Regions from separate parts of the Homo sapiens genome. Here region 1 is linked to region 2. The links come from fine-mapping of genetic effects on gene expression. Tissue or cell type: tibial nerve. Region 2 holds a variant in brackets; the other region holds the start of a gene. All regions are shown on one strand. Distances are from middle to middle.

Region 1 (5,175 bases), 52 kb after region 2:
GGGTTATTGTGGGGATTTGATGTGATGATCCCTGTGAAGTGCTTAGAACAGTGCCTGCTGTGTGGTGGGCTCTCGATAAATGTCATTTATTACTATGAAAGGTTAGGAAGAGTAAAAATTACTTTGGTCTTTTCCATTAAGGTGAAATTGCCTCTGCAGATAACATGATCTTATATATGGAAAACCCTAAAGACTCCACCAAAAATCTATAAGAACTAATACATAAATTTAGTAAAGTTGCAGGACACAAAATCAACATAAAGAAATTAGCTGCATTTCTATACACTAACAGCCTATCTGAAAATGAAATCAAGAAAACAATCCCGTTTACAATAGCTTTAATTAAAAAAAAAAAAAAAAAAAAAAAAACTTAGTACTGGGTGGAGTGGGTCACACCTGTAATCTCAGCACTTTGGGAGGCTGAGGTAGGAGGATTGCTTGAGCCCAGGAGACCAGCCTGGGCAACATAGTGAGACCTTGTCTCTACAAAAATTTTAAAATTTGGCCAGGTGTGATGGTGTACACTTGTAGATACAGCTTCTTGGGGAGCTGAGGTGGGAGGATTGCTTGAGCCCAAGAAATTGAGGCTGCAGTGAGCTGTGATTGCACCACTTCATTCCAGCCTGGGCAACAGAGCAAGATCCTGTCTCAAAAAAATAAAAATAAAAATAAAAATATAAATAAACACTTAGGAATAAATTTAACTGACATGAAAGATCTGTACAGTTAAAATTATAAAACACTGATGAAAGAAATCGAAGACACCAATAATGGAAAGATACCCTATGTTTACAGATTGGAAGAATTGTTAAAATGTTTATACTATCTACATAAAGCAATCTACAGATTCAATGCAATCTCTATCAAAACTCCAGTGTTTTTTACAGAAATAGAAAAAATAATTCTAAAATTCATATGGGATCCTTAATGACCCTGAGTAGCCAAAGCAATATTGAGAGAAAAAAAAAAAAAAGCTGGAAGCATCATACTATTTGATATCAAAATACACTACAAAGCTATAGTAATCCAAATAGCATGGTATTGGCACAAATACAGACATGTAGACCAGTGAAACAGAGATCCCAGAAGTAAATCCATGTATTTACAGTCAACTGATCTTTAACAATGGTGCCAAGAATACACAATAGGGAAAGAAGAGTCTCTTCAATAAATAGTGCTGGAAAAACTGCATATCCACATGCAGAAGAATGAAATTAGATCCTTATCTCATACCATATACAAATATCAACTCCAAATGGATTAAAGACTTAAAGTAGATCTGGAAAAAGGAAACTCTCTAAACAAAAGTCCTCCTCCCTACCCCTCTTCCAGCTGCTTTGCATCTGTTTGTGGAGCTCCACTTTTGTCCCCTTAAAGGTAAATGAGCACTTTCCTCCTTCCATTTCCACTGCACAGGTAACTCTCAAAGGACTTCACACTCATTAACTCCAGCATGGAGAGCAAGGGACTAAAGAGCAACACTTTTCAGAGACAGTTTTTTAGAACATTTATTTTCTGATGATGATGGTCTTCCTCTGTTTTCCCAGAGTTGGATGCCTACCTAGAGAATCTCCAAAAAATGCAACAGTGTGCTTTGATGTTTGCCTACCATAGTTACCATTGTTAAATACTATTTATGGGTCCGGGCACTTCTAATCAAAAAGTGCCTGTAATCCCAGCACTTTTTGATTAGAATGTTAGAACTTTCAGCCCCATCCACCACTCCTATCACTATGCAAGGGAAAGGGGTTGGAAATTGAAGCTGGATGAGCACATTGGCTCACGCCTGTAATCCCAGCACTTTGGGAGGCTGAGGTGGGTGGCTCATTTGAGGTCAGGAGTTCAAGACCAGCCTGGCCAACATGGTGAAACCCCATCTCTACTAAAAATACAAAAATTAGCCAGACGTGGTGGCAGGCACCTGTAGTCCCAACTACTCATGAGGCTGAGGCAGGAGGATCACTTGAACCCAGGAGGCAGAGTTGCAGTGAGCCAAGATTGCACCACTGCACTCCAGCCTGGGCAGCAGAGCGAGACTCCGTCTCAAAAAAAAAAAAAAATAGTGAATGACTCAGTCTATTTGGGCTGTTATAACAAAATAGTATATACTGGGTAATTTATAAACAATGGAAAGTTGTTGCTCACAGTTCTGGAGGCTGGGAAGTTCAAGACCATCCTGGCCAACATGGTGAAACCCCATCTCTACTAAAAATACAAAAATTAGCCAGGCATGGTGGTATAAACCTGTAGTCCCAGCTACTTGGGAGGCTGAGGCAGGAGAATTGCTTGAACCCGGGAGGTGAAGATTGCAGTGAGCCAAGATCATGCCACTGCACTCTAGCCTGGGTAACAGAGTGAGACTCAGTCTAAAAAAAAGGAAAAAAAAAAATATGGGAGGCCACTGTTTTGGACTGATTCCTGCACTAGGCTCCATCAGCCGGGACCAAATCAAAATGAAATAAATTCTAGCTTCCACATAATTAAACTGAATTTAGAAATGGGCCAGTTAAAAAAAAAAATCTAGGAGATTCTCAGCAACCAATCCAAAGCCACCAAGTCAACCTGAGCTGACATAACATGAAAGGCCCTCTGCTTTAACCCATACAAGGAAAGTTAACTGAAGCCATCTGATGTTAACCAACCCACTTTTGGCATGACACCATTTCCTTCTTGCTTAAGCTACCTTACAGAAATCAACTGTTCTGCCAACCCTGGAGGAATGTCTTTCCATTTTATGAATGGGATGCTGACCAACTCATAATTGCTAATAAAAGCTAATGAGATCTTTAAATTCAATTTGTTGAAATATTGTTCTCTGTCATCCTCTACCCCATCACCTGTGCTCAGCACCACACCTCTGCTTCACTGTGCCCCTTTATTATTTTTCTAAAGCTGAACAAATCACATGGGCCCCACAGTTAGTGTTTACCTTATGCAACGACCTGTGTGGCCCCTATCAGAGCAAACAGAGAAACAGAAAGATACTCTTCCCCCCATATTAATTCCTCCTCTGCTCAAAAATGGCTTAAATTTCTTGAATTTCTTCAAGCCAGCCAAATGACAATCACAGTCATTATCTAAATGCAAACCCTTCTGAGATAGTGCTTTAATTCACAGTAAGATTCAAATAAATCATAACATCATATCTCGAGGGCAGATTTTCTTAAATGGGTACATACCGTTTTCATCAGTTGTTTTCTTAGAGCTCTGGATATTTCTCTTGTAAGAGGAACAATCTGTGCAATTACAGTTCTGTAAAATACAGCTACAGAATGCTCTGACTTAAGTGTCAGGAGAACAGCCAAGGAGCAAGTTGAGAACTGCCTGGAAGGACCTCTGGCATTACTTTAAAGCCCTGCCAGATCACTTCCGGTATCACATCATCAATTTCCTACCCCAGCTTCACTGACTCCCTATATTAGCATTTCCTGTTAATGTTTTTCATACCCACATGTGAGGGTTACATGGAATTTTAAGTTAGATTCAATAGAAGGAGCAGCAGTATAGAAATACAGTTATTAAAATTCCACTGGTATCTTTCTACTTGTTTTAATGACTACTAAAAACTTAAAAATTATATTGTGTGGCTCACACTATATTTCTATTAGGCAGTGCTGCCTTAGAAAATTCTAGTCATTTTCTAACAGAAAACCTATATGTACAATTAAAAACACTTAAACTGTGGGGGGTTACTAACAACATATACCCTTTCCCCCATTCGGTTTCTCTCTGTAAGCAGTTTAAATTACCTCTTCATTTGCTGAAGATAAAAACTTCAATATTTGAGGATTAAGAAGAGCAAAAGAGGGTCAGAGAAAGGAGATGTTCCCTGCCAGCAGTGTCCTTGTCACATGCTGGGAAGTGAGTTGGCCTAATGGCATTTAACAGTTTGACATGTGAAAAAGAAGAAAACAAGCTGCCTTTTAATCCTGGCATTCTAACCTCTCTCTTCTAATCTCTCCCTAGCCTCTGTCTTCTAGGAATGTGGGATACATTGGGTTGGGAAGTAGAGTGACCTTTGACAGAGATTGGGATGGGGTCCAGGGCAGCTGGCTCCTCTGAATAAATAGGTAAAGACAGGTACAATTAAATAGGGAGTAAGCATTTGCTCAGATGCAGTAGTCCACTAGGAGCCAGTAATCTGTCTAAGTCAATAGAATCCAGAGAAAGTCAAGGTAGTGTGAAGACAATGACGGAAAACTTCATCCACAGAGAAGAAAGAGTAGAATGAACAGATGACCACAGTCTTCCGATGGATGAAGAACCAGCTGTCCACTAAGACTTGTCCCTCATGGCTAAATTGCAGTACCAAAGTTATCTTTCCTGAAGCAATTAGTCTTACATTTTCTCTCTTGCTGTTCACATATTGTTGTTCTGCCATTGAGAAGCAAATGATGGCCAGGTGCGGTGGCTCACACCTGTAATCCCAGAACTTTGGGAGGCTGAGGCGGGTGGATCAGGAGTTCAAGACCGGCCTGGCCAGCATAGTGAAACCCCATCTCTACTAAAAATACAAAAATTAGCTGGGTATAGTGGTGGGAACCTGTAATCCCAGCTACTTGGGAGTCTGAGGCAGGAGAATCACTTGAACCCAGGGGGGCGGAGGTTGCAGTGAGCTGAAATCGTGCCGCTGCACTCCAGCCTGGGTGACAAGAGGGAAACTCTATCTCAAAAAAGAAAAAAAAAAAGAAGCAGCAGCAAATGATGTGTAGAGACTATGGAGACTCTTCTGTCCTCCCACAGATAATGTGCAGATAACATCATTCCAACATCTAAAAATGTGTTATTCATTTATTTCTGCAGAGGCAATATTCTTAGTATTGTACCAGTGACAGCCCTTGGGAGTTACTAACTGTTTATAGAAGAAATTTTTCCTGATGAAATAAAGATTCTGAGTTAATGTCTCTTTTAATATCTTGGAACATTCTGGGGGAGGCTGACATTTTAAAAATATCTTGCTTTGAATATAGGGTCTCTACAGTTGATATATCTAAGCACAATATCAATATGGAATCAGAAATTAGAATAAAAGTGAGCTGGGTATGGTGGCTCATACCTGTAATCTCAGCACTTTGGGAGGCCAAGGTGGGAGGATCACTTGAGCCCAGGAGTTTGAGATCAGCCTGGCCAACATAGTGAGACCTCATTAGAAAGAAAAAAAAAAAGGGCCAGATG
Region 2 (5,308 bases):
GATCCAGGCACAAAGATGCACATGGATGCACACACATACACATCCCCACGTGCACACATGCTCACCCCACCCCTGCCTTCACACACACACACACACACACACACACACACACACACACACACACACAGAGCCTGGAGGTAACACTGAAATGAGGGGACCTGGTCCCTGGTCTACGTACCCCATTCTTCAGGGCAGAGGTTTCCTGTGTTTCTTTTTTTCTCTCTTTCTTCCTTCCTTCCTTCCTCCCTCCCTCCTTCCCTCCCTCCCTCCCTCCCTCCCTCCCTCCCTTTCTTTCTTTCTTTCTTTCTTTCTTTCTTTCTTTCTTTCTTTCTTTCTTTCTTTCTTTCTTTTTTCTTTCTTTCTTTTTCTTTCTTTCTTTTCTTTTTCTTTCTTTCTTTCTGTTCTTTCCTTCTTCTTTCTTTCTTTCTTTTCTTTTCTTTCTTCTTTCTTTCATCTTTCTTTTTGACAGAGTCTCACTCTGTTGCCCAGGCTGGAGTGCAGTGGTGCCATCTCAGCTCACTGCAACCTCTGCCTCCCAGGTTCAAGCAATTCTCCTTCTTCAGCCTCCCAAGTAGCTGGGATTACAGGCACCTGCCACCACGCCCTGGCTAATTTTTGTATTTTTAGTAGAGACAGGGTTTCACCGTGTTAGCCAGGCTGGTCTTGAACTCCTGACCTCAAGTGATCTGCCCACCTCAGCCTCCCAAATTGCTGGGATCACAGGCATGAGACGTCATGCCCAGCGCTCCTGTGTTCCAATTTTCCTACTTTCTGGCCCTGGAGCAATTGAGGCCACTTTAGAGAAGTGACAGCTTGACCACCACGTGAGATCATCTGAGGTCTTAATTGTAAAATTCTATTTTAAAAATGCTAATATTGGGAGTGGTGATGGTGGTAAAATCATATTTTTATATTTTTAATATACATAATTTTATTTAATTAGTTACTTTCATGTTATCACCATCATTTTTATAATCACAAAAATTACTGTAATTTTGGATTTTAATATATGTCAGACACAATGGCATATTCTTTACATGCATTATTCCCCTAAATTTTGAGGTACATGTTATTCCCCATTTCCTAAATAAGAAGCTGGGGCTTACTGAGGTTAAGTATTTGCCCAAGGTCACGGAATCAGTAAGTGGGAAGCCAGGACTCAAATTCTGTGGATTTTGAGTTAAAGTCCATGACTGTAACTACTCTGCTCTTCTGGCAAAATGATGAGGACAGATATTTCCTTTCCTAAATCTTAATTTTTTCACCAGTAACGATGTTCATAGCTCACATCTGTCTTATTTTTTATAGAGAAGAAGGGGCTTGGATATTTGAAAAGGGTTTTTCTGCCAAAAAGAGGAGAGAGAGAAGGATGAAGAGGCACCCAGCACTGCCAATGCAGGCATGAAGCCAAACCCGTTTGTCTTCCCTGGTATACAGAGTGACCACAGGGGACATTTTAAAAGCTCTAGGGAGTTAGAGAGTGCTGAAGAAGAAATCTGGGCAGCAGGGCTGCGGCCAGCCTTTCAGCAGTTTGTGCTGGGAGCTGCTCCCCAATGAGACTTTCACCTCAGCTGGGTTTGCGCGCCGTACTCCCTAGGCTGAAAGTTCTCTGGATCGGTCTCCTCGAAGCAGTGCTCCCGACAGGCAGCACTGAGCCTTTCACCTGGAAGGAGGAAAAGAAGGGTTTCGTAGACACAAATGGGGAGGAAGGCGAGGGCTGCCCTGTTACTGCGATGCCCTCATCAGCCAAGTCTGGGCTGCTCCCTTTTTTTTTTTTTTTGAGACTGAGTCTCACTCTGTCGCCCAGGCTGGAGTGCAGTGGCGCGATCTCGGCTCACTGCAAGCTCCGCCTCCCGGGTTCACACCATTCTCCTGCCTCAGCCTCCGGAGTAGCTGGGACTACAGGGCCTGCCACCACGCCCGGAGAATTTTTTGTATTTTTAGTAGAGACGGGGTTTCACCGTGTTAGCCAGAATGGTCTCGATCTCCTGACCTTGTGATCCTCCCGCCTCGGCCTCCCAAAGTGCTGGGATTACAGGCGTGAGCCACCGCGCCCAGCCCGCTGCTCCCTCTTTTTAAAGAGTGGCTCCTCCCCCTGTTCTAGCTTTCAGGTCTGACCAGAAACAGTCTCTTCTTTGACTCTGCCTCCTTGACCACAGTGAGTGGTCCAGGGATAAGCAAGTCAGATTGACTGAAGTGGGGAGAAGGCTCTCAAAGGTCCTGAGACTGTAAGATGTAAGAGACTCTGAAGAAATGAAAATTTTCCACTGTAGGCCTCCATGTCCTTGTCCACTGTAGCTGTTCCTCCCCACCCCCGCCGCTCACACATGACCGGACTGTTCCTCCCACTCCTCTTGGTAAAATCCAAG[T/C]TGTCCAAACAGTGACCGCTAATTGCTAAAGAAAATTCCTTCCTTTTCTAGGAACCATCTTTGTTCTTAAAACAAAGTGAACTTGAGCTGACCCTGCCTGCTGAAGCCCTATAAAAAATTCCACCCTCCTTCCCAAGTTAGAACGCTCCTTTTCACGCCGGCATTACTGAAAGGCTTATGCTAATGGTGTTCTTGGTTTTTTCCACAGAGGATATAAGTTAAGAGATGTTGAGATGCTAGCAGCAGGTCTACAGCTTGTGGAGAAGCCAGTCTGGGAGAAGGAAATTAACGTGCAAACAGGTTAAGAAATAAGTGGTAGAGGGAGAGACAGAGAGATCCCCTCGCGTTTAATTTTCCATCTTGCTTCTCTAAGACCAGGATTCTTCCCTGTTCTTCTCATTTTTGGTTATGTAAGTAAATTAGTTAAAAATGTAAGATTAAAAAAAGGAGCACCACAACATCTTCACATGTGGCTGTGCAAACGTAATGTTATAACTGTATACTGAAAGAAATTCGAATTTAGAGCCTCGGTGTCCAGGAATAAGGGTAAACATTATCTTGTCCTTTCACATAGCTCTGTCAGCTCACTCTCTTCTGGGTAAATGATGAGTCAGAAACACAGGATTCTTCTCTCATTCAATGCCACCCTCACTTCTGGGAATGAATAAGTTGCTGGAGAATCAGGATGTTGAAGAGTAATTTTTAAAAAACCCATGCAATTACACAATGCCAAAAATCTTGTTTCACTTATTATTTATTTATTTTTACTTATTTATTTTTTTTGAGACGGAGTCTCGTTCTGTCGCCCAGGCTGGAGTGCAGTGGCACAATCTCGGCTCACAGCAAGTTCTCCCTCCCGGGTTCACGCCATTCTCTTGCCTCAGCCTCCCAAGTAGCTGGGACTACAGGTGCCCACCACCACGCCCAGCTAATTTTTTCTATTTTTAGTAGAGACGGGGTTTCACCATGTTAGCCAGGATGGTCTCGATCTCCTGACCTCGTGATCTGCCTGCCTCGGCCTCCCAAAGTGCTGGGATTACAGGCGTGAGCCACCGCGCCCAGTCTATTTCACTTATTATTTAATAAGGAAACCAGTAAGAAGTAAAAATTGGTTGAAAGGAGAATTCAAGGACAAAACACATATATAGGCAATCAGAAATATTGAATTAATTTTGCCTATAGATGCAAAACTAGCCTCTTCCATAGAGTGGAAATCAATACACCTTCATTGGACAAAAGTCATTCTTATTTCTAAGAACAGGAATCATGTACATCACCACCAACCTTCCACCACTTAACTTCAATTTCTACAGATTTGCAAAATAGTCAAGGACAATGAAAGACACAGACCCACGTAGAATTTGATAAACCTGAAAGGGTCCTGTTTCCAGAAATTTTGTCAAGAATTCAATCTGTGTAATTTGATCCCCTACACAGGATCCATAGACCGGCTTAAATAGATGTGAGATTTGAATAACTGAATTTGAGAAATTGCCGGAAAATACACTATACATTTCCATCAAACCAAGAATATTCCTCTATTTTCATACAGTCCCCAAACTCAATTCACGGTCATTGTGACAACACAGCAACCACCTACATTTCTATTTTGCTCCATAAATTTTAGTTATGACAGGTTAGCCAGGCACACTGGAAAATCTCGCCACCAGCCCTTTGCACCCCACAATGAGATGCATGTGCAGATGGAGAGCTGTTGCAAAAACTAGGGCTTCCGTAGGGAGAGGGGGAAGGTTTACAGATTCCAAAATCAGAAGAAACACAACATCTGAATATGAACTTGTAGCCCCAATTAGGAAAATCTGAAAATCATGAGGGAAAGACTTTTAAACCAGCACCTCTCTTATGGGGCCCCCACCTGCTGCTTGGACATGATATACTCACATTTTGATATTCCATCCTGACTGTATTAGAAAGTATGATCCACACTCTTTCTTAGGCAAAGGCTCAAGAAATAAAAATGCTCAGTCTGGTGTGATTGTTCCTCAGAGCTTATGGTGGATTTTCTTGCTTCTTACTAGGAGAAAAAAATGGTCAAATAAAGCAAATTGAACACCTCACAAGCAAGTGGAGAATCAGCCTTGGATAGTTTCCCCATTCATAGCTGTGAAAGAGGTGGACACAGAGCCTGAGAGTCAGTAACTGCAAAGACAAAGCCAAAGGAAGGATCAGCACAGGCCCAAGTGAGGGAGTGCCACTGTAGACTTACAATTCTGGAGCAAGTCTAAAGACTCTTACTGTTGTTGATAGAGCATGACTCATTTATCTGGCATGGTTTGGGATGCTCCCCTATGGTTTAAATACCAGAGTTGGTATTGTACCTGGTAGTACAGTCTAGGTTCATTCTTTTATCCATTTCTTCATTCACACACAGGCATACCTTGTTTTACTGTTTTTCACTTTATTGCACTTCTCAGATACTGCATTTTTAAAACATGGAAGGTTTGGCTGGGCACGGTGGCTCACGCCTGTAATCCCAGCAGTTTGGGAGGCCAAGGCGGGTGGATCACCTGAGGTCGGGAGTTCAAGACCAGCCTGCCTAGCATGGAGAAACTCCGTCTCTACTAAAAATACAAAATTAGCTGGGCTTGGTGGTGCATACCTGTAATCTCAGCTACTCAGGAGGGTGAGGTAGGAGAACTGATTGAACCCGGGAGGTGGAGGTTGTGGTGAGCTGAGATTGTGCAATTGCACTCCAGCCTGGGCAACAAGAGCAAAACTCCATCTCAAAAAAACAAAAAACAAAAAACAAAAACAAGGAAAGTTTGTGGTAGCTCTGTGTTAAGCAAGCCTACCAGTTCCATTTTCAACAGCACGTGCTCACTTCGTGTCTCTGTGTCACATTTTGGTGATTCGCACAGTATTTTTAACTTTTTCATTATTATTATATATACATGGAGATCTGTGATCAGTTATTTATT

The links. PIP is the estimated chance that this variant, and not a neighbour inherited with it, causes the effect.
Region 1: it holds the start of LNCOG, and the variant in region 2 is fine-mapped to the expression of LNCOG in tibial nerve (GTEx, PIP above 0.99).

The regions. Positions count from the first base shown.
Region 1 is chr12:76,257,986-76,263,160 of GRCh38, reverse strand. LNCOG (lncRNA osteogenesis associated) reads right to left here and starts at 3,278. Exons shown (of 4, transcript NR_146531.1): 1 at 3,180-3,278.
Region 2 is chr12:76,309,636-76,314,943 of GRCh38, reverse strand. No RefSeq gene overlaps it. Among named protein-coding and RNA genes, the nearest start is that of BBS10, 36 kb to the left of the region's middle. The variant T/C (reference allele first, on the strand shown) is at 2,370.